Linked DNA regions of Homo sapiens. The protein of the gene in region 1 purifies or fractionates together with the protein of each later gene. This does not show direct contact. Each region holds a gene or a part of one and is shown in the gene's direction. Other genes may lie near its edges.

Region 1 (4,092 bases):
GTAATGATAGTTCAAATACAAATAAAAATGCTTTTTACATTTAGATCTTGGTAAGGCTATTACATTTTTAAAATATGCTTTACATGAAATTTTCATTCAAAACACTTTTTTTCTCTTACACTAGTGCTCAGAAAATAAAAATGCACAGAAATATGTAATTTTAAGTGGGGTAAGATAATTTTTATAATAATAAATGACAACTGTATAATGATTTCAAATTTTATTATTAATGAAGCTAGTTTCTGAAACTTTAAAGTGATAAATGGAAAAAATAAAAATGTATAGAATTACCAACGGATCTTATGGCTGATCCTATGGCTGATCATTGTTCAAATGCTATAGAAATACACTCTGTACTCTCAAAATATAAACAGCTTTATTGTGGAATAGTATAAAATGGTATGTGATTGGGGTTTGTATTATTGCAGGATATGGAACTTATCAAGGAGTAATGAGTAGATGTTAATGCTTCCTCCTCTAATAATGAAAGTCTCATATTCCTGTGATATGTCCACATACGATTTGTTAAAACTGCTATGTTCCTAGATTCTGTCTCCTCTGTTGACATAACTCTGTTTTTGCTTGGTATTGAGTGTGCCTGCTGATATATATATGCCATTATCAGCTACAAGGCTTATAGTAACGTTAAATATTCAACAAAATCTCAGATCAGTCCTTATTCATTATTCCAAGTGTTATATTACATGGTGTGGAAATGAAGTGCTCAATATTTCAGTTGAATAGCTCAGAAGTTCGTTAATTCAGTGTGTTCAAACATGGACAGATGCCAGTTTATCCCTTTGGGTGTACTATAACAATTGCTCTGTCAACATGATGAATGTAAACACCTTTGTTAAAGTAGGATGAATATTATTTAGTTTTCCCTCCCAGCTTCTAGATGTTTGGCCTTCTAATCTTTCACTATAAAATATGGGAGATAGATAGATAGATACTGATATAAATCATAATTATATAAATTAGTCATATCTAACTATCTCCCATATTTTATAGTGAAAGCTTAGAGGCCCAAACATCTATACGTATATACACATATAGCATTCAGTTTGACATTAAAATTCTGTTCCAGAACCTATCCTTGGTTAAGGAGACCTGTTTCATGTAAAATACAATTTGAAGAGAATATGAACGACAACCCGAAGGAATCCATAGTAGATTAAAAGTGGAAAATTTGAACCGATATTTTTACCTTCAGTGAAACAGATGGAATTTGCATTAATTCATCCAGAAAGAAATGCAAAACAAGTATATGCAAATTTGTTAACTAACTATTTGCTGTTTGCAGGACCTACTGCAAATACACATTAAAGACCTTGGAGTGTATCTAGCTGTTAAGTTGTACTGAAAAAACAAAAGAACAAAAAACCCCAGCAGAATATATATATTACCAGATTGGGTGGTGGTCAATTTATGAAATCAGTTTTGAAACAGTCTATAATAGACATCAGCAAACCTTTCTGGAAAATCACCTAATGTGTAACTATTATAATATGGTTAAAAAAAAGACTATGAGTATATAAAACTTAAAAGAGATATGACTCCTATACATGAAAAGTTAGTTAATCCCCTGTGACATTTAAATCATTTAAATGTTCCCCCATTTTTATCTGTTAGAAGGGTAGTGTATTACTTTTTTAAAAAATTAGAAGGCCATTGCATTTTCATTATAAGAAGAGTTTCATAAGAATTGGATTTTACACTGTACTATGTGTGGTTGCTGTGTGAAGATTTAAGGTTAGTTAAGATTTAAGGTTAGTCTGAATTATATCCCATTGAGTAAAGAAAGTTACAAAAATGTTTTGGAGTTGGATTCTAGTAAATATGAATGATCTAGGGGAAGTTGCAGGCTGTACTCTGTGTGTGAAAGGAGCAAAGAAGGACAAAAACACTCTTGCTGGAGACAGTACTGGTCAACAGAGGGAGGTTAGTACCTAGTATAAAGGAAATTAACATTGCTGTAGGGGAACTTGGGATGTATTCACCCATCTTAATTTTTAGAGCTAGCAAGGATATTAGGAACCATCAAATCCATTTTAGAGATGAAGGATTCAAAGTTCAGAAAAGTTGAATAATTTATCCAAATTCACACAGCATGTTTTTGGCAAATTCAGAACAGGAAGCCAGGCCCTCTTCCACTGTATGGTGATTATGGGATAACAGGACATTTATGAGGATTTGAAGAAGTGAAGTGACTAAATCAAAATGGTGCATCAATTCTTGAATTTGATGATACTTGCTAAGATCCATTTAAGAGAACAGAATGGAAGACAGGGAAGTTAGAAAGAGAAATGTTTTCAAATTCCCAGCTAGTAGTATGGCTGGATAAAGTAGTCGGATGAAGATTTTGGCAGTGAGTTGAAGAATCCAAGGGAGTTTGAGAAATTTCATGAAGAAAGGGATCAGGCTCCTTGTGCTTCCACAGCTAATGTTCACCAGTGTATCCCAGTTAATTATGTGTAGTTCTTTTCCGCTAGTCCTTCTGGGAGTGCAGAAGACAAAGCTTATTCATTCCTAGGACTTAACACCATGGCTAAAGTACAATAGTCACTCAATAATTTTGTTGTCTGTCTGTAGAGAATGGGAAGGACTGAGAATTTGAAGTCAGACTGAATCTTAGTAATAGTAACATAGCTTAGCAGGAAGAAGCATTGGTGAAGACTGACTTCTGAAATGCCACAGTGAGATAATATGTCATTGCATATAAATTTGAAAGGATAACTATCATTGCTTCAGGTACAAAGAAGACAATATTAACTATATTGAATATTAAATACATATGGGAAACCCACCGTGTGTTTACCCATGAGGACAGGGAGAAAAAGTATAATTTGAGATTTTTTTTTAAGTAGAATAATAAGGACTTGAGTAATGCACAAAAAATGTGTATTTATAGTATAAATCTAGAAAAAAAAAAGTAGAAATTTCCAGTGCAAACATTGCCACACAAACCATTATAGTAATCTGGCCTTTCTTCAAAGCCTAGCTTAAATTCCTCAGTTTGGTCATGTTCTGGACCAAACTGGCAGAAAGATTTAATTCTCTTCCCATGTTTCATTCTTTTAAAGGCAAGTATTGCCCTTTTGAGTTTCTAAAAATCTATGCACTGATGATAACCTGGTATTTTAGAAGAAATTTCAAGTATCAAATCCAGTAACATCTTTAAAAAAAAAAGAATGGAAGTAGCTTTTCTTTGTCTTGACATATTTCTTTCTTTGCCTTCACCTATTTGTCTAAGAAACATTTGACTTTTGGCTTAAAGTGAGGAGTTCTTTGGTTTATTTTCCCCCTCTTCACCCATGGTTCTACCTCTGTTTTGCTAACGCCTCTTTTGGAAGCGAACAGATCCCACTTTTTTCATCTCTAATGGTTTCCAAAGCTTGGCCCTTGACCCTGCTTTCACTCTCTCTACTCTTGCAACTTTGACTATTACCTCTGTGCCTTTTCCTCTTGAATTTGCTCATCCCCTCCCTTCAATCTCAGATACCACTTTTATTTTCTTACCAGACATGTCACCAGTATTAGCACCTCAAACTAGACATTGCCCAAGCCAAACACATCATTTTATCCTCAGAAAGTTTCATCTCCTTCCCCAAATGCACTACCCTTCTCTTGGTTCCACAGGTTTGATGACTCAAGGTCATCTTTAACTCTTCCCTCTTCTTCAACCCCTACAATTTCTGTGGAATTTCACTTCTATTTGTTCCTGTGTCCTCTTTATTGGGAATGCACTTCCCTTCCCTCTTGACCTGACCTATTCTGGACTTTCTTCAAAGGCTCACTTAACTTCCTCAAAAAGGCTGGAGTCATATATGAAAGTAACCCCTCTTTCCTTTGGACTCGTATCATTTTAATGTCTTGTATGCCATTCATCACATTCTTTCTTATACTAGTTATTTGTATACCCTCCTACTTCTCTTACTGGACTTTTCTCTTATTAAATTTTTTGATGTCAAGGCCTTTTCATTTTTCCTTATTCCACAAATACACTAAATGCTCAGTGTCTGTAGTAAGCAACATGTTTGTCAAATGAATGAATGGATGCGAATGTCCGGTATTCTTATGTCCTGAGAATAT
Region 2 (3,615 bases), on another chromosome or scaffold:
GGGAAGGCAGCCTGGAGGGTGGCAGAGCCGCTCAGGATGACCATATTGAAAGTGGGTCCTGAGAAATCAGGACACTTGGGATGCCAGCCATTCCAGCATGCAGCCTCAAGAGCATGATATTCTCGCCCTGGGTCACCTAGCTGGAAGAAGGCTCTGGTGTCCCCACCTCTGCAGGTCCTGACACCTCCTGGCCAGAGACCATGGTGGAGGCGCCGTGGCTGGGGTCTGGCCTCGGAGAGCCTGGTGGTTTTCATTCCCCATGAGCCTCACGGATTCCCCATGAGCCTCATGGATGCCCCATGATCTTTACACTTAAACAGCTTATGTGCCTCCTTGTCACCGAGGAAAAGTGCAACCTCCCAGATTCTGTCTTTCAGTTCTTGCCATGCAATTGCAAAGCTAGTGATTCAGTAAACATTTCCATTTCTCTATGCTGGGAGGTGGGAATCCAATTTACAGTTTAATCTCCTGCATGCTGAGAGAGGCTGTCAAAGACCTGACAGGGGGACGTTGCTTTAGCGGTAGGGGTTCAAGCCTGCTGCCGTCTTTAAAGCTTTATTCATTCTAAGTAGCCAATGTGGGAAATTTCTGGAAAGAATGCAGCCAGGATACCAAGCCTATTCTATAAGCAAGTAGAGGCCTTGCGTCCCCACTTTCCTTCGCTTCCTCCTGTTTGAAGTGGGGCTTGCACTGCCTCTCCTTGGAGCTTTCCAACATGTTCAGAGCCCTGTGTCCTGTTTCAGGTTGAAAGGAGAAGACCAGTCTGAATTGGTGACGACTGTGGACAAGGTGGTCTGCCTGGAATCTGCCCACCCCCGCATGGGTGTTGGCTGCCGCCTGAGCCGGGCCTTGCTCACTGCTGTCACCAACGTGCTCATCTTCTTCTGGTGTAAGTCCTCGGCCGCCTTCCCTCCCCTTCTGTGCAGTCAAGCATACTCCTAGGCATGAATGATGAGCTATAGAAATTCCAGGCCCGGAGGGTTCATTTCTGTCTAGTGAACCTGAGGTCTGTCTCATAAAACAGAGGAGATGAACAAGTCAGCCTCTGCCCTGGGTTGTATTTACCTTTGGAGATTGGTGGCAGGAATCCGTGAGGATAACTAGAAAATGTCCTTGATTCAGGGCAGGGGACTGTCAGATTTCCTGAGCGGGAGCCTGGCCTGAGCAGGAGCTGGGCCCCACCCCTTCTGGGCTCTGCAGGGATCCCAGTGTGGACCAGCTTCGAGCAGGAGGCACAGCAGGGGCTTGGCCTACTTTTACTCCCTGAAAAATATAAACATCTCCTGGAGAGCTACAGATACCTGATGAAAGCAAGAAGGACTCAGGGTGCTGCACTGAAAGGAGGGCACCAGTCTTATCCCCTGACATCGGGGGCCGCCTTTGAGCAGAGACCTCAGGGCGTCTCTGAAGGCGAAAGGCCAAGTCACAGAAACCACGGCTTTCCAGAGATAGTTGGAGCTACAAATCACAGACCGCCTCAGTGTGCACACAGCTCCCTCCCCTGTGCCATCAGGCACAGAAATCATTATCGGCAGCAGCATCTCGGAATACAAAGGGCCCCGGCATGTATATATGTATGAAACACTGTGTTCTGGTTCACAAGGGAGGAGATGAAAGCCCCAGAATGAGGTTGGGAGGAGCCGAGATCTGGACGGCTGGGGATGCCGCTGTGGTGACAGCCGGTGGGAGGAAGATGATCACTTAATAATCTGTCGTCCCTCTGCATTTCTGTATCTTTTGTTTCTCGCATGCTGGCCCTGAGCCTGACACATAGTAGGTACCCAAACCCATGTGGTGGATCCCCCACAGCATCCATCACAGCATCTTGTCCATGGTGAGACCCACTGCCAAATGAAGTGTGAGGGATTAACAGTGTTTTGTTCCCTCACAGGCTTGGCTTTTTTGTGGGGGCTCCTAATTCTCCTAAAATATCGGTGGCGAAAGTTAGAAGAGGAGGAACAAGCCATGTATGAGATGGTGAAGAAGATTATAGGTGCGTGGCCCCCTGGTGAATAAAGGGTTGCCGACGCCAGCCAGAGGGTCCTTGCCCTAAATGGTGTGCTCTCTCCTGCAGACGTGGTCCAGGACCATTACGTGGACTGGGAGCAGGACATGGAGCGCTATCCATATGTAGGCATCCTGCACGTGCGCGACAGCTTGATCCCTCCACAGAGCCGGTGAGTCCCTGGCTGGGGCGCTGGGTGTGAGGTAAGATGGGGTCCGACCCCACTGAGCTCCCCAGAAGGAAACCCAGAGCCTTGCATCAGATGTCAGCTGAGGGCAGTGCAGACCCCAGGGCCAAGAGTGGCTCTGCTCCCACTCCTGCTGCTCCCCAGCATGCTCGGCTCTTTATGGCAGGATGAGCTAGAAAAGACATATGAAAGCACAATCCCACACCTCTGTAGAGAGAACACTGGCAGTGGTGATACCAGTTAGGAGGCCTTGGGCTCCAAGTAATAGCAGCTCCCTCCCCCAGGGCACAAGTAGTGAAGGATCTCCTCAGTCTCTGTAAGTGGAAGTTCAGAGCTGCATGGGCTCCAGGCACAGAACAGTCAGGTCTCCGGTTCCATTGCTCTTGTGATTCTCGTGGTCCCACACTCCTCCATGGATGTTATCAACAGACTGGGGTCCCTCATGGTTGCAGATGGTGGCCAACAGCAGCTGGGGCACTGTCTGCCTTGTCACAGCCAGCAGGGGAAAAGTAGGCCTATTGTTGTCTTATAAGCAAGAGAACATGTTCCCAGTAGCCTCCAGTGACACACTCCTTGAGGCTTTATTGACCAGAATCTCTTACATGTCTGTTTATGAATCAGTCACTGGCAAGGAGGAGGAAATTGTTTTTCAAACTTTTTAAACCATGACCTGCAGTCAAAAACACCTGTTACCTGCAACATCATGGTCCAGTTCCCACACACGCATGCGTACACTCATGCATATACATGTAATTGAAAGCAAAGTTTCACAACATGAATGGGGTCAGCTTCCAGGGCACATAGCTTCATGGGAAGGGGTGGCAGGGCCACTGTCATGTGCAGCTGCAGGGCACCTTCCACATGGGCTGTGACTGCTGGAGTTGTACACTGGGGTCCTGACAGAACCAGGGTGGGGGAGGGCAGAGTCCCAGGAGACAGCCAGCAGGGCCCCCCCCAGTGTTGGCTCTGGTTGTGGTCCCTCCCTAGCAGACACTTGCTGTGGTTTCTGGCCAGATGCTGTCATCTGCTGGGTGATGCTGAGAGCTCACCCTTGCTGAGTGCTCCCTGGGAGCCGGGCACTACTTGGAGCTCTCCACAGATGCAAACTCACTCACTTGGTCCTCACCATGGTTCACGCACACAACAGAAGTGGCCCCATTTTACCTATAAGGGAACTGAGGCACAGGGAAGTAGAGGAATGTGCTCAAGAGTCCCATGGCTAGTGGCATTTCCGTGCTCCCGCCACCAGGCTCTACTGTCAACATCATCCCTATCTGCAACCCAAGAGGAATCAGAAAAATAGAGCCGTTAGCAGTCCACTTTAAGTCAGGCACAGTGGCTCACACCTGTAATCCCAGCATTTTGGGAGGCCAAAGTGGGAGGATTGCTTGAGCCCATGAGTTCAAGACCAGCCTGGACAACA
Region 3 (4,092 bases), on another chromosome or scaffold:
TGAGTAGCTGGGACCTCAGGCGTGTGCCACCATGCCCAGCTGATTTTTGTATTTTTAATGGAGATGGAATTTCACCACGTTGGCCAGGCTGACCTCGAACTCCCGACCTCATGTGATCCGCCCGCCTTGGTCTCCCAAAGTGCTGGGATTACAGGCGTGAGCCACCGTGCCTGGCCATGGCCCAATTTTATAGTTACTCTAGCTATGGAGTAGATGTTTTCAGTTCAAAATTAGGAATTTAAGGTTATATTTTGTTACAAAAATCTTTAAAAATTTCATAAGAAAACAGTTGTTTGGGGTACAAAGAAATTAATCCATAAATAGGATTGTTACAGTGACTAATATAAATAAAAGAACATTTGTGTAATCATGGGAATTATTTTATTTTATTTTTCCTCGACCCAATTAACTGGGTGAAAATTTGCTTGCCAGTTCAGATTTAGAATTGTAGACACAGTTAAAGTTTTTGACCTTGGGAGGGAACCTGAACTTTAGAAAACTTACAACATTCTTTTGCCTGGTATCCCTTTCATAATTTAACTTGATTGTCTTTTATTTATTTTTAGTTATTATTTATTAACACAAAATTATATTTATGATGTATAATGCGATGTTTTGAAGTACTATACATTGTGGAATGGCTAAGTCAAGTTAATTCACATTAGGTGGTATACTGATTCTGACAAGAACACTTAACATCTACTCTCAGCAATTTTTCAATTATGTGATACATTGTTGTTAACTATAGTCACCAGGTTGTATAGATCCCTTGATTGCCTTTTAAAAGTGAGAGAACCTTCTGGATGAGTCTTCGGGCTGTGGTTTTATAAGACTAGTATTAAACTGAACATAACATTTAAAACAAACAGATATTTATTTTCCTCAAACCTGTATATTTGATAGTTCCTTATAACTTTCTGTTTTAAGGGTGATAGGGATTGATAAACAAAAATAATTTGTGGTGCTGAAACTTGACTGAACTCTAGCTTGTTTATAATACCACCTCTCTACATTGTCTTTCCTTATTCAGGTTGAGCACTCCTGATCCCAAAATCAAAAATCCAAATGCTCCAAATTCTGAAACTCCGTTAGTGTTGACATTAATGTTACAAGTGGAAAATTTCACACCTGACTTCACGTGATGGATCACAGTTAAAACTTTGTTTCATGCACAAAATTATTTAAAATATTGTATAAAATTACCTTCAGTCTATGTGAATAAGATGTGTGGGAAACGTGAATGAATTTCATGTTTAGATTTGGGTCCCATCCCCAAGATACCTGATCATGTTTATACAAATATTCTAAAATCTGAAACACTTCTGGTCCCAAGCATTTCAGATAAGAGATACTCAACCTGTATAAAGGGTGCAGTGTTTAAAGTAACTTGATTTGTTGGTTTCATATCAAGGAATAGATGTAGTCTATATGCATGGCAGTTACAAAAGTGAAAAGAGACCTGGCCTGCTGTTATGTACTAGGAAATTTGTCTCCATTAACAGTTTCTCAGGTAGCCACTGTCTTCTAGTTTGTGGATGATGAAACTGAGGTCCAGAGGAAGGTTATGCAGAAGAGCATGAGTGGGAATGAGTATGGGGAAGTAGACAGGGCCTGAATTGGTAGGAATGTGTATTCTGCAGAAGGTGACGGGGGACCATTGAAGTGTGTTTGTTAGTTTTTTGTTTGTTTGTTTTTTGAGACAGAGTTTCGCTCTTGTTGCCCAGGCTGGAGTGCAATGGCGAGATCTCGGCTCACTGCAACTTCCGCCTCCTGGGTTCAAGAGATTCTCCTGCCTCAGCCTCCTGAGTAGCTGAGATTACAGGCATGCGCCACCATGCCCGGCTAATTTTGTATTCTTAGTAGAGACGGGTTTCTCCGTGTTGGTCAGGCTGGTCTCGAACTCCTGACCTCAGATGATCCGCTCGCCTCGGCCTCCCAAAGTACTGGGATTACAGGTGGGAGCCACCACACCTGGCCTTTGTTAAAGGGTTTTTAAATCTTCACTGACTAGGGCTGGGTTTGGGTTGCTGCTGTGGTCGTGGTGGTGAGCATAGCCAGCCATTGTAGGGTTTGTTGCCTTTTTTTTTTTTTTTTTTTTTTTGAGGCAGGGTCTTGCTCTGTTGTCCAGGCTGGAGTTCAGTGGCGCAGTGATAGCTCACTGCAGCCGCCAGGCCTCCAACTCCTGGGCTTGAGTGTTGCTTCTGTCTCAGCCACTCAAGTAGCTGGGACCAGAGGCATCAACCACTGTGTCCAGCCTCATTTTTTTTTTTTTTCTTTTTGTTTTGAGACAGTCTCACTCTGTCTCCCAGGCGGGAGTGCAGTGGTGTTATTTCAGCTTACTGCAACCTCTGCCTCCTGTGCTCAAGCGATTCTCCTGCCTCAGCCTCCTGAATTGGGACTACAGGTTCACACCACCATGCCTGGCTAATTTTGTTTTTTTTGTTGTTTTTGTAGAGACGAGGTTTCCCCATGTTGCCCAGGCTGGTCTGAAACTCCTGAGCTTCAGGTGATCTGTGATAGGGGTAGGATTTGAAACCAGGCTGTTCAGTGTGTGTCTGTCTTGTTCTAGGCATTGAGTTCTGGGTTGGTTGGTTCTTTAGTCAAAATTATTTTCTTTTTTATTGTGTAAATTCATTATTTTTTTTCTATCCTTGATTTAGCACTTTTTTTTTTTTCCAGAATACCGTGTTGGGTTTAACTTAACTGCCTTGTCATCTTGTTAACAAAAATTGTATTAAACAGCACATGCCGGGCTGGGCATGGTGCCTCTGTCCTATAATCCCAGCACTTTGAGAGGCTAAGGTGGGAGGATCACTTGAGGCTAGGAGTTTGAGACTGCAGTGAGCTATGATCCTGCCACTGCACTCTAGCCTGGGTAACAGAGTGAGACTGTGTGTCTCTTTAAAAAAGCACAGCCTTCACTTAAATGAAAATTGAGTGAATCATTTTATCAATGGACTCTGTTAAGTTGGAACAGGTACCATTCCATGGGAAGGTGAACCTCTTTGGCTCATGTCCTAACACAGGTGGTTTATGCTTTCAACAGATATTTATTATGCCAGGAACTGTTAGGGGCTCTGGGGCTGCATAGTGAACAGCATCAAAAGGGAGTATTGTCACACTCCATTTGTAGACAAAATGGATTTCTTGGAGATGCTGCTGAACAGTAGGATTTCAACCCTGACTAAGCTGTTGCTTGTCACTTGTTCCAATAGCAGCAACAGGTTTTTTGTTTTTTGTTTTTTTTTGAGATGGAGTCTTGCTGTGTTGCCCAGGCTGGAGTGCAGTGGTGCAATCTTTGCTCACTGCAAACTCCGCCTCCTGGGTTCAAGCAGTTCTCCTGCTTCAGCCTCCCAGTTGCTGGGATTACAGGCGAGTGCCACCATGCCCAGCTAATTTTTGTATTTTTAGTAGAGACGGGGTTTTACCATGTTGGCCAGGCTGGTCTTGAACTCCTCACGTCGTGATCTGCCCGCCTTGGCCTCCCAAAGTGCTGGGATTACAGGTGTTAGCCCCCAGGCCCAGCCTAGCAGCAACAGAATCTTTAATGAGCAAGTAGAAACAGCCAGAAGTGAAGTGGTGTTGGTACTAGGGAAAGGTTAGAAGGAGTCAGATTTGAAACACGAATGCATGTTTTACTAGCCGTGTGACTTTCAATTTGGCACCTCACCTTTCCAAGCCTCAGCTTCTTTTCGTGTAAACTGAGGATAGTCCCTCCCTAGTGGAGTTTCTCTTGGTATTAAATGTATGAAGTGCCTGACATGTAGGTCCCTTGCTAGTATAGGAGGTGCTGGAAATGAAGTATGTGTCTTTACGAGGTGTTACTGATAGGGTGATGACAACAAGAATCTGTCCATTAAACTGACAGTGTTAGATGTTTCCAGGTTAGTAGGCTTCTTTCAGCAATTAGTGTGTATGTGTGGGGTAAGGAAGGTGCTATGAGATACATTTCTTAGGCAATAGAGAGCTTCAATTAAGTAGCCAAATTACAGTTGATGTTATTGTGTAACTGTTTTGGCAGTATGTATCAGAATCCATTCATGCTCTTTGACCCAGAAATGCTACTGTAGCGGTCCTGCTATTGCCATATCA
Region 4 (4,092 bases), on another chromosome or scaffold:
CACCTTGGCCTCCCAAAATGTTGGGATTACAGGCGTGAGCCACCGCGCCCAGCCTTTCTTTTTTTTTTTTTTTTCTTGAGACAGAGTTTTGCTCTTGTTGCCCAGGCTGGATTGCAATGGTCTGATCTTGGCTCACCGCAACCTCTGCCTCCTGGGTTCAAGTGATTCTCCTGCCTCAGCCTCCCAAGTAACTGGGATTATAGGCGCGCGCCACCATGCCCGGCTAGTTTTGTATTTTTAGTAGAGAGGGGATTTCTGCATGTTGGTCAGGCTGGTCTCGAACTCCCGACCTCAGGTCATTCGCCAGCTTCGGCCTCCCAAAGTGCTGGGATTACAGACGTGTACCACCACGCCCAGCGTTTTTTTTTGTTGTTGTTGATACCAGAGATGCCATCTTCTTGCTGAAGAACTAATATAATGGGAAAGTTTTATGTGATTCCGCCTACCTTCTCCATGCCCAGCAAGACGATAGGCTGGTTAGGAACTGGCAGATGAGACAGTCAGCATCCCAACAATCTATTAACAGGTGCCATATTGACACATTTTCTTTACATCCTCTCCCTGTGGGTTCTTTCTTGGCTCCTAAGCACCCCTGTGTGAGCAGAAGCATAGCAGAATGTCCAATAATTACAAAGAGAAAAATTGGAGTGAGCCCTGACACAGGTTTGATTAGGTGAAAATGTAATATCCTATATTAATGTCTCACCTGCTACTTTTTAGCGCTGCCTAGAAAGTCCCTGGAAACAATGAGAAGGAAAACAGCATGTTTATATGAATTGTATTGACACCATGATGAAAAGTTTAAAGACCTCAAATTGTATAATGTAGAAGCATAGAGTATGAAGGTCGCTAGCCAACCAGCAAAAATGATTTGGTGTTTGTATATGGGAGGCTGGGATGTAGTGTTTTTTTCCTGGTGCTTAATTTTTTTTTTTTTTTTTTTTTTTTTGAAACGGAGTCTCACTCTGGTGCCCAGGCTGGAGTGCAGTGGCGCGATCTCGGCCCACTGCAACATCCATCTCCTGGGTTCAAGTGATTCTCCTGCCTCAGCCTCCCAAGTAACTGGGATTACAGGTGCGTGGCACCACACCCATCTAATTTTTGTATTTTTAGTAGAGATGGGGTTTCACCTTATTGGCCAGGTTGGTCTTGAACTCCTGACCTCAAGTGATCCACCGGCCTCAGCCTCCCAAAGTGTTAGGATTACAGGTGTAAGCCATCGCGCCTGGCCTGGTGCTTAATTTTGGTGTTAAGTGATAGGTTTTGGTTGCTAACCTAATTGTATTGTTCCCATCATTGGCTAAGGTAAGCTTGGGGAATTAATTGTAGAATTACTCTTTGGAATGGGAAACCTATTCTGTATCTTTTTAGGGGTGTTTATAGGGATGTGTATGTGTTATCTCTCTCTTTTTTTTTTTCTGAGATGCAGTCTCACTCTGTCACCCAGGCTAGAATGCAGTGGCACAATCTCGGCTCAGTGCATCCTACGCCTCCTGGGTTCAAGTGATTCTCCTGCCTCACCCTCCCGAGTAACTGGGATCACAGGCATGCACTACCATACCCGGCTAATTTTTGTATTTTTAGTAGAGACGGGGTTTCACCATGTTGGCCAGGCTGGTCTCAAACTCCTGACCTTAGGTGATCTGCCCACCTCGGCCTCCCGAAGTGCTGAGATTACAGGCGTGAGCCACCACGCCTAGCCTACATGTGTTATCTTTCATAGAATGATACACTCCTAGAGAGTCAATTTTACTCTGGGAATTTTTGAGACAGGGTCTTTCTCTTTCACCCAACCTGGAGTGCAGTGGCACAGTCTAGGCCCATTGCAACCACTGACTCCCGGGCTCAAGCGATCCTCCCACCTCAGCCTCTCAAGTAGCTGGGCCTACAAGTATGCGCCACCACACCTGGCTAATTTTTTATATTTTTAGTAGATACGGGGTTTCACCATGTTGGCCAGGCTGGTCTCGAACTCCTGAGCTCAAGTGATCTACTTGTGTCGGCCTCCCAAAGTGCTGGGATTGCAGGTGTGAGCCACTGCCTGACCGGGATAAATTTTTAAAATGAAACTTAAATGACTGGGTGCAGTGGCTCACACCTGTAGTCCCAGCATTTTGGGAGGCCGAGGTGGGTGGATCACCTGAAGCCAGGAGTTGCAGACCAGCCTGGCCAACATCGCGAAACCTCGTATCTACTAAAAATACAAAAATTAGCCAGGTATGGTGGTGGGTAATCCCAGCTACTCGGGAGGCTGAAGCGGGAGAATCGCTTGAACCTGGGAGGAGGAGGCTGCAGTGAGCCAAGATCGTGCCACACTGCACTCCAGCCTGGGTGACAGAGCAAGACTCTGTCTCAAAAAGAAAAAGAAAGTCACACACAAAAAAATGTGCTAAAAACTGATTTTTTTGGTGCTTTGTATCACCTTGCTCTGACAGTCTCTTTCCTTCTCCAAATTTGATAATGCTCTTCTTCTGCTTCTGATACGTCAGTATTTCTTGCAACATCATTGTTTCAACCCAGAGCTCTTGTGGTTTCTGGGATTAGCTGCCACAAGTTCCCCACACATGTCAAACTAAGAGCTCTCCATGCCAGTATCAGCCCTCAGAGTGTTAAACAGGAGAGGGGCTGTTTTAAGAGTGGCAGTGAATGCTTGGCATGTTAGTCTGTGAATTTTGTATGAAAACCACTTTTACAAACTATTGTTTTAGAGCTGAAGTTTTCTCAGCAGGTCACCTGATACCATGCTCTCCCTCCAGTTTTTGTAAGACAGAGTCTGGCTGTGTTGACCAGGTTGATCTTGAACTCCTAGGCTCAAGCAATGCTTCCGCCTGAGCCTCTTGAGTAGCTGGGACTATGGGTGCACACCACTGTGCCCAGCTTCCTTTTTTTTTTTTTTTTTTGAGTCAGGGTCTCACTCTGTCACCCAGGATGGAGTGCAGTGGCACGATCACAGCTCACTGCAGCTTCAACCTCCTGGGCTCAAACGATCCTCCCACTTCAGCCTCCCAGGTGGCTGGAACTACAGGCCTGTGCCACCATGCCTGGCTGATTTTTTTGAGACGGAGTTTTGCCCTTGTTGCCCAGGCTGGAGTGCAATGGCATGATCCCGGCTCACTGCAACCACCGCCTCCCAGGTTCAAGCAATTCTCCTGCCTCAGCCTCCTGAGTAGCTGGGATTTCAGGTGTCCGCCACTACGCCTGGCTAATTTTTGTATTTTTAGTAGAGACGCGGTTTCTCCATGTTTGCCAGGCTGGTCTCGAACTCCTGACTGCAAGTGATCCGTCCGCCTCAGCCTCCCAAAGTGCTGGGGCTACAGGCGTGAGCGACCGTGCCGGCAATTTTTTTGTATTTTTTATAGAGATGGGGATTCACTGTATTGCCCAGGCTGGTCTCAAACTCCTGGAGTCAAGTGTTCCAACCTGTCTTTGGCTGAGATTACAGGTGTAAGCCACTATGCCTGCCCCACCTCGATTTTTTTTTTTTTTTTGAGACAGAGTCTTGCTCTGTCACCCAGGCTGGAGTGCAACGGCACTATCTCAGCTCATTGGACCCTCCATCTCCCAGGTTCAAGGATTCTCTTGCCTCAGCCTCCTAAATAGCTGGGATTACAGGCCCGTGCCACCATACCCAGCTAATTTTTGTATTTTTAGTAGAGACGGGGTTTTGTCATGTTGGCCAGGCTGGTCTCTCAACCTCAGGTGATCTTCCCACCTCGGCCTCCCAAAGTGATGGGATTACAGGCATGAGCCACCACGCCCAGACCGCCCCCCGCCCCCACCAATTTTTAATCCAAGTTGAAACGTGTATTTAAAGTCAGCCCTCTTGGCTGGATGTGGTGGCTCATACCTGTAATCCCAGCACCTTAGGAGGCTGAGGCGGGTGGATCTCTTGAGGCCAGGAGTTCGAGACCAGCCTGGCCAACATGGCCAAACCCCATCTCTAGTGAAAAATACAAAAATTAGCCAGGTGTGGTGGCACATGACTGTTGTCCCAGCTACTCGGGAGGCTGAGACAGGAGAATTGCTTGAACGCGGGATGCAGAGTTGCAGAGAGCCGAGGTCGCACCACTGCACTCCATCCTGGGCAACAGA
Region 5 (4,092 bases), on another chromosome or scaffold:
TGCCTGTGATCCCAGTATGTTGGGAGGCTGAGGTGTTAGGATTGCTTGAGCCCAGGAGTTCAAAGCCAGACTGGACAACAGAGCAAGACCCTGTTTCTACAAAAAAATTTTCAAAATTAGCCAGGCATGGTACTGCATGCCTGTAGTCCCAACTACTCAGGAGGTTGAAGTGGGAGGATTGCTTGAGCCTAGGAGGTTGAGGCTGCAGTGAGCATGAGCTGTGATTGCACCATTGCACACTCCAGCCTCAGGAACAGAGGGAAACCCTGTCTCAAAAAAAAAGAAAGAAAGAAATCAGGGCAACCCTTTTTGACCACCACCGTTGGGTCAGCTGTTTATTTCGTTCACTTGCCATTTTGTCATTTCCTTATTCCTCCAGGGGCCTTGATATTTACTTAATATTTAAATACTCTACTCTTTTTTTTTTTTTTGAGATGGAGTCTCACTCTGCCCCCCAGGCTGGAGTGCAATGGCGCGATCTTGGCTCACTGCAACCTCTGCCTCCTGAGTTCTAGCAATTCTCCTGCCTCAGCCTCCTGAGTAGCTGGGATTACAGGCACCCACCACCTCATCTGGCTAATTTTTGTATTTTTAGTAGAGATGGGGTTTCACCATGTTGGCCAGGCTGGCCTCGAACTCCTGACCTCAGGTGATCCACCTGCCTCAGCCTCCCAAAGTGCTGGGATTACAGGCGTGAACCACCATGCCCAGCTCTAAATACTCTATTCTTAAATTTCAAAACATTTATTTATAAAATGAACTTTCTAGTCCTTGCAATAATGGCATAAAAGGCTGGGCACAATGGCTCACACCTGTAATGCTAGCACTTTGGGAGGCTGACACAGGTGGATTTCTTGAGTCCAGGAGTTTGAGACCAATGTGGGCAGCAAGGTGAAACCCCATCTCTACAAAAATACAAAAATTAGCCAGGCGTGGTGGCACATGCCTGTGGTCCCAGCTACTTGGGGGACTGAGGTGGGAGAATCACTTGAGGGAAGAAGGTCGAGGCTGCAGTGAGCCAAGATGGGGCCACTGCACTCCAGCCTGGGTGACAGAGTGAGACCCTGTCTCAAAAAAAAAAAAAAAGAAAAAAAACACAATGGCATAAGAAGAATAAAAGGAAAAGTCCTTGAAGGCCTTTGGGGATGAGCCAATGAATGAATGTGTAAAAACTATCAGGCACATAGTAGGTGCCCAAAAAATCACAAGCCAGTGGTTTTTTTTTTGTTTTGTTTTGTTTTGTTTTGTTTTGAGACGGAGTCTCACTCTGTTGCCCAGGCTGGAGTGCAGTGGTGCAATCTCGGCTCACTGCAGCCTCCGCCTCCTGGGGTCAAGTGATTCTCGTGCCTCAGCCTCCCAAGTAGCTGTGATTATAGGCACAGGCCGCTGTGCCCAGCTCATTTTTGTATTTTTGTAGTGACAGGGTTTCACCACGTGGCCCAGGCTGGTCTTGAACTCCTGATCTCAGGTAATCCACCTGCCTTGGCCTCCCAAAGTGCTAGGATTACAGGCGTGAGCCACCACGCCCAGCCACACAAGCCAGTTTTTTGTTGTTGTTGTTTTTGAAACATGGTCTTGCTCTGTTCCCCAGGCTGGAGTGCAGTGGCACAACCACAGCTCACTGCAGCCATATCCTCCTGAGCTCAAGGGATCCTCCCACCTCAGCCTCCTGAGTAGCTGGGACTACAGGCATGCACCACCACACCCAGCTAATTTTTAAATTTTATTTTATTGATTTATTTGCTTATTTATTTTTTGAGGAGTCTCACTCTGTCGCCCAGGCTGGAGCACAGTGGCATGATCTTGGCTCACTGCAACCTCTGCCCCCCGGGTTCAAGTGATTCTCCTGCCTCAGCCTCCGGAGTAGCTGGGATTACAAGTGCCCACCACCACACCCAGCTAATTTTTGTATTTTTAGTAGAGACAGGGTTTCATGATGTTGGCCGGGCTGGTCTCAAACTCCTGACCTCAGGTGATCTACCCACCTTGGCTTCCCAAAGTGCTGAGATTACAGGCGTGAGCCACCGCACCTGGCCAAATTTTTTAATTTTTTGTAGAGATGGGGGTCTCACTATGTTGCCCAGGCTGGTCTGGAACTCCTGGGCTCAAGCAATCCTCCCACCTTGGCCTCCCAAAGTGCTGGGATTACACATGTGAGCCGTCACACCCAGCCACAAGCCAGTTTTAAGTCCATTGCTCTGTCCACCCTGGAGGACTTCTCAAAGGAGGAGGCACCACAAGCTTCAAGAATAGAGCAAAGATAAGAGGTGCATCAAGCTTGATTCTTGTCTTCCCTCCCTTCTCTACCCAGGTGACCTTCCCTCCACCCCAGGAAGCTATGACAGAGGCCGGGAAGCTGCCCCTACCGCTACCCCCACGGCTGGACTGGTTTGTGCACACCCAGATGGGCCAGCTGGCCCAAGACGGGGTCCCCGAGTGGTTCCATGGTGCAATCTCAAGAGAGTGAGGACACACCCACACCCTCCACCCTGCCCTCCCCACCCTGTCCTTGTCTGTCCCTACCCTGGGCAGCTTTTAACTGCAGAATTCTGGACTTGGCTCAGCTCAGTGTGGCAAGAGGCTAAAATGAGCTCCAGGCTCCCAGGCTTGAATCCTGCCACCTCTTTGGGCTCACTGTGTGACCTGGGGCAAGTTACTTGCTCTCTCTGAGCCTCAGCTTTCTCTATACAAGTGGCCAACAGACCAGCACTGCCAGGGACCTGGCAGCACCCCACACCTCGCCCAGGCCAAGCATTACCAATCAACGATGGCAGCATGCAGCCTCAGAATCTTTCTCTCTTTCTTTTTGAGACAGGGTCTCACTCTGTCACCCAGGCTGGAGTGCAGTGGTGCAATCTTGGCTCACTGCAACCTCTGCCTCCCGGACTCAAGTGATTCTTCCGCCTCAACTTGCTAAGTAGCTGGGATTACAGGCACATGCCACCAAGCCTGACTAATTTTTGTGTTTATAGTAGAGATAGGGTTTCACCATGTTGGCCAGGCTGGTCTCAAACTCCTGGCCTCAAGTGATTCACCCGCCTCGGCCTCCCGAAGTGCTGGGATTACAGGCGTGAGCCACCGCACCCGGCCAGAATCTTTCTGAACACAGTACTCCAAGCAGCTGCTCTCAACCCATCAGGATACAACCAATGTGCCCTTTCTTTTTTTTTCTTTTTCTATTTTTTTTTTTTGAGACAGAGTTCCGCTCCTGTTGCCCAGGCTGGTGTGTAGTGGCGCGATCTCGGCTCACTGCAGCCTCTATCTCCTGGGTTCAAGCAATCCTCCTGCCTCATGAGTAGCTGGGACTACAGGCATGCACCACCGCACCCGGCTAATATTTGTATTTTTAGTAGAGACGAGGTTTCACCATGTTGGCCAGGCTAGTCTCAAACTCCTGACCTCAAGTGATCTGCCGGCCTCGGCCTCCCAAAGTGCTGGGATTACAGGCATGAGCCACCGTGCCTGGCCCCAATGTGCCCTTTCTACCTCAGACTGTGAGCTCTGAGGATGTGGGCCCGGCTCTAACTAAATGGAGGAAAAAATATTTATGGCCACTCTCTGCATGCAGGAAATTGAGAAAATTCTGTGAAGGCCACAGAGAGGAAGTAGTATTGGTCATGGTTTCTGAGCTCTGGGGCCTTGCTGAATAACAGAAATATAACATGAGTTGCACATTGCAATTTAAAAAAATTTTAGTAGTTATATTAAAAGAAGCAGCTGGCTGCACTGGCACTTACCTTTAATCCCAGCTACTTGGAATGCTGAGGCGGGAGGATCGCTTGAGCCCAGGAGTTCAAGGCTGGCCTGGACAACATAGTGAGACTCCATCTCTAAAAGGAATTTTAGGCTGGGTGCAGTGGCTCATGCTTGTAATCCCAGCACTTTGGGAGGCCGAGGCTGGCAGACCACCTGAGGTCAGGAGTTTGAGACCAGCCTGGACAACATGGTGAAACCTTGTGTCTACTGAAAATACAAAATTAGCCAGGCGTGGTGGCGCATGCCTGTAATCCCAGCTACTCGAGAGGCTGAGGCAGCAGAATCACTTGAACCCAGGAGGCGGAGATTGCAGTGAGCTGAGGTCGTGCCACTGCA
Region 6 (4,092 bases), on another chromosome or scaffold:
TGTGCAATATATCAGATACTTTGTCTTGTGAGGACAGCTCAGTCAGGAGCTCTGTCATCTCAAAAATTATTTTTGTTTTGATAGTCTCTGAAGATTTCCAGTAGAAAAACAATTGTAATTGTCATGAGAATCTTTTAGTTATTTAAAATTAACTTTGTAATTTTTTATTCACCATTTCTATTTTTTTCCATATGATGCTTTACATTAGGAGTGTAGTCCAAAAAAGGACCAGAAAACTCCAACATCCCTGGTGGCTTCGGTTAGCGGTCCTCCAACGAGCTCCAGCACAGCTGCCATTGCTGCAGCTAGCTCTAGCTCTGCACCAGCCCAAGAAACCATCTGCCTCGACGACTCACTAGATGAAGACCTTTCTTTCCATTCACCTTCACTGGATCTTGTTTCTGAAGCTTTAGCGGTTATCAACAATGGGAACAAGGGCCCTCCAGTTGGCTCAAGGATAAGCATGCCAACCACAAAGCCTCGTCCAGGACTGAGAGAAGAAAAATTAGCAAGTATCATGAGTAAGCTGCCACTAGCTACTCCCAAAAAACTAGATTCTACTCAGACTACACATTCTTCAAGTCTTATTGCTGGTCACACAGGGCCAGTACCAAAGAAACCCCAGGATTTAGCTCATACTGGCATCTCTTCAGGCCTTATTGCTGGTTCTTCCATTCAGAACCCTAAAGTTTCTTTAGAACCTTTGCCAGCCAGGCTACTTCAACAAGGACTTCAGAGGTCAAGCCAGATTCACACTTCTTCCTCTTCACAGACCCATGTCTCCTCTTCTTCCCAAGCCCAAATTGCTGCCTCTTCTCATGCTCTGGGAACATCCGAGGCCCAAGATGCTTCTTCGTTAACACAAGTAACAAAGGTGCACCAGCATTCAGCTGTCCAGCAGAACTATGTGTCTCCATTACAGGCCACCATCAGTAAATCCCAGACCAACCCCGTCGTGAAGTTAAGTAATAATCCCCAACTCTCCTGTTCCTCCTCACTTATTAAGACTTCAGATAAGCCACTTATGTACCGCCTTCCCTTATCTACCCCCTCACCTGGAAATGGTTCTCAAGGGTCCCACCCCCTGGTTTCTAGGACAGTACCTAGCACCACTACCTCCAGTAACTATTTAGCCAAGGCTATGGTGTCACAGATCTCCACGCAGGGTTTCAAATCTCCCTTCTCGATGGCTGCCTCCCCAAAACTTGCCGCATCTCCCAAGCCTGCCACATCTCCTAAACCCCTGCCCTCGCCTAAGCCTTCTGCCTCACCCAAGCCCTCTCTGTCAGCTAAGCCTTCAGTATCAACTAAACTTATTTCTAAATCCAACCCAACTCCCAAGCCTACTGTATCCCCAAGTAGTTCCAGTCCAAATGCACTAGTTGCCCAGGGTAGCCACTCCAGCACTAACAGCCCAGTCCATAAACAGCCCAGTGGAATGAACATCAGCAGACAGTCTCCCACCTTGAATTTATTGCCCTCTAGTCGCACTTCAGGCCTTCCACCTACAAAAAATCTTCAGGCCCCCTCAAAGCTAACAAACTCATCATCCACTGGAACTGTTGGGAAGAACAGCTTGAGTGGAATTGCAATGAATGTACCTGCCAGCAGAGGTAGCAACCTTAACTCAAGCGGAGCTAATAGGACTAGTCTGTCTGGGGGAACAGGAAGTGGAACACAGGGTGCTACCAAACCATTGTCTACTCCACATAGACCATCCACTGCCTCAGGGTCTTCAGTGGTAACAGCCAGTGTGCAGGTATGTATGTTCTGTACGTCCATGTGATAAACTATAAGATTGTATAATGTCGTCTTTCTTGTGGGTAACTTTAATAAGCTTTTTATGATATGTGGATTGTTCTCAATTGGCTTATTACAGCCTGCAGCCATGGAATGTTCCTGATGCTGACATCACAGTGACAGGCACACTTGTAGTTGAGGTGTTTGTTGGGATATGGATTTTTTTTTTTTAAGTAACAAAGGTGCACCAGCATTCAGCTGTCTGACAGAACGATGTCTTCATTACAAGCAACCATCACTAAATCAACTTTAAAATTATTTGACAAAACAAAACTAAAATGGCTTATTTCAAACTTTCTCTCTTATCAAAGTCCAGAACAAAGTAGTAACTTAGGAATTTAACGAACATTCGCTTAGCTCTTCCCTTCCCTTTTTCTCCTGCCAATTTTCTTATTTTTCAATCAAATTTATACATTCATGTTATTTTTTAAATCATTTATCTTCTCGAAATTTTTATTTTGCTTAATTTTGTAGTTATATATAATTTTCTATGTCAAATTAGTGTCAGTCGCCCTTTTATACCACAGTTTTCCCGTTCGTGAATTTTTAGTTTAAACTTACCTCTCAATTAGCTGAGTGCCTCACTCAAGCAATCTTTTCAAGAAGGGTAGCCGGGCATGGTGGCTCGTGTCTGTAATACCAGCACTTTGGGAGGCCAAGGCAGGAGGATCACTTGAGGTCAGGAGTTGCACTCCAGCCTGGGTGACAGAGCGAAACTTCATCTCAAAAAAAAAGGGTAGCATAAATGCTATTTTACCTTAGCTCATGTACACCTGATAATTTCTTTCTGTGCTGTCACACTTGAGTAGGCGTAGCCTTCTTGGGGCACTAACTGTTCCACTCCCAATTTTGTAAATACTACTCCACTGACTCTTGCTTAGTATTTAGGATTATGGAGAAGTCTGAGGCCATTCTCAGACTCTTTCTCATTCTCTTTTTGTTCCGTTATCATTAATGTGTTTTCTCTGCCTAGTTGTCATTAATTGTATACCTAGAACATAGTAATAGCTTTCCATCTCAGAACTGGTTATTTATTTTAGATCAAGAATATTTTATTGTATTATGTGTCTGATTACTGTTTCTGATCCATTTATCGTAAGTTTTTTGAGAACTCTTTATTATATATATATTTTTTATTTTTCCCTAAGACAGAGTCTCGCTCTGTCGTCCACGCTGGAGGGCAGTGGCGCAATCTTGGCTCACTGCAACCTCCGCTTCTCGGGTTCAGGAGATTCTCCTGCCTTAGGCTCCCGAGTAGCTGGAATTACAGGCACCCGCCACCATGCCTGGCTAATTTTTGTATATTTATTTATTATTATTATTATTTTTTTGAGACGGAGTCTTCTCTGTTGCCAGGCTGGAGTGCAATGACATGATCTCGGCTCACTGCAACCTCCACCTCCCAGGTTCAAGCAGTTCTCCCTGCCTCAGCTTCCTGAATAGCTGGGATTACAGGCATGGGCCACAATGCCCAGCTAATTTTTGTGTTTTTAGTAGAGACAGTGTATTGCCATGTTGGCCAGGCTGATCTTGAACTCCTGACCCCAGTTGATCTGCCCACCTCGGCCTCCCAAAGTGCTGGGCTTACAGGCGTGAGCTACCACACCTGGCCTAATTTTTATATTTTTAGTAGAGATGGGGTTTTACCATGTTGACTGGGCTGGTCTCAAACTCCTAACCTCAAGTGATCTGCCCGCTTCCGCCTCCCAAAGTCCTGGGATTACAGGCATGAGTCACTGCGCCGGGCCTATATTTTATCTCTCTGTCTTCCATATCATCTTCTGTTATTGTTTTCATCTCTATGCCACTTCTTTGTATTCTGACACTTTCTCAGATTTGTCCTTTATGTTAATGATTTAGTTTCTTTAACTTTTTTCCCCTGAAAGTAATGTATGTTCATTGAAGGCAAATTTAGAAAAAAGAAAATAAAAATCACCTATTAATCCAATACTGTTTATGCTTTGTAGGTACTTTTTAAGACTTTTTTCAACAAAATGTGTTTTGTATAATATTTCGTTTTATAACCGGCAAAAAAAAAATACCATTTTATGATATGCAAGTTCTTAGGTTCTTAAATATTCTTTGAAAACATAACTTTTATTTATTTATGGAATTGTGTTGTCTAAGGAAGTGCTCTTTGTACTGTCTCCTATTTATGTGGAACAGGAACATGTAATGAGAAGAGTTTCCCCTTGCTGTATGTCAAGGTTTCCTGCTGTTCAATATAGTCTAAGGGTTGATATTCAATATACATTGTATATTCAAATCATCATTCTGCTACTAATGTAGGCA

Evidence for each region.
Region 2: the proteins of MKX (region 1) and LEMD2 purify together in Homo sapiens (affinity purification with mass spectrometry, with the first as the bait; one large-scale study listed by BioGRID). This does not show direct contact.
Region 3: the proteins of MKX (region 1) and NAP1L4 purify together in Homo sapiens (affinity purification with mass spectrometry, with the first as the bait; one large-scale study listed by BioGRID). This does not show direct contact.
Region 4: the proteins of MKX (region 1) and BEND3 purify together in Homo sapiens (affinity purification with mass spectrometry, with the first as the bait; one large-scale study listed by BioGRID). This does not show direct contact.
Region 5: the proteins of MKX (region 1) and HSH2D purify together in Homo sapiens (affinity purification with mass spectrometry, with the first as the bait; one large-scale study listed by BioGRID). This does not show direct contact.
Region 6: the proteins of MKX (region 1) and UBN2 purify together in Homo sapiens (affinity purification with mass spectrometry, with the first as the bait; one large-scale study listed by BioGRID). This does not show direct contact.

The regions. Positions count from the first base shown.
Region 1 is NC_000010.11:27,735,481-27,739,572, reverse strand, and holds part of MKX (homeobox protein Mohawk), read left to right. Parts: intron 1-4,092. UniProt on the Homo sapiens protein: May act as a morphogenetic regulator of cell adhesion.
Region 2 is NC_000006.12:33,775,516-33,779,130, reverse strand, and holds part of LEMD2 (LEM domain-containing protein 2), read left to right. Parts: intron 1-743; coding exon 744-889; intron 890-1,891; coding exon 1,892-1,993; intron 1,994-2,074; coding exon 2,075-2,177; intron 2,178-3,615. UniProt on the Homo sapiens protein: Nuclear lamina-associated inner nuclear membrane protein that is involved in nuclear structure organization, maintenance of nuclear envelope (NE) integrity and NE reformation after mitosis.
Region 3 is NC_000011.10:2,982,176-2,986,267, reverse strand, and holds part of NAP1L4 (nucleosome assembly protein 1-like 4), read left to right. Parts: intron 1-4,092. UniProt on the Homo sapiens protein: Acts as a histone chaperone in nucleosome assembly.
Region 4 is NC_000006.12:107,108,839-107,112,930, reverse strand, and holds part of BEND3 (BEN domain-containing protein 3), read left to right. Parts: intron 1-4,092. UniProt on the Homo sapiens protein: Transcriptional repressor which associates with the NoRC (nucleolar remodeling complex) complex and plays a key role in repressing rDNA transcription.
Region 5 is NC_000019.10:16,146,413-16,150,504, forward strand, and holds part of HSH2D (hematopoietic SH2 domain-containing protein), read left to right. Parts: intron 1-2,311; 5' UTR 2,312-2,338; coding exon 2,339-2,463; intron 2,464-4,092. UniProt on the Homo sapiens protein: May be a modulator of the apoptotic response through its ability to affect mitochondrial stability. Adapter protein involved in tyrosine kinase and CD28 signaling. Seems to affect CD28-mediated activation of the RE/AP element of the interleukin-2 promoter.
Region 6 is NC_000007.14:139,282,816-139,286,907, forward strand, and holds part of UBN2 (ubinuclein-2), read left to right. Parts: intron 1-208; coding exon 209-1,759; intron 1,760-4,092.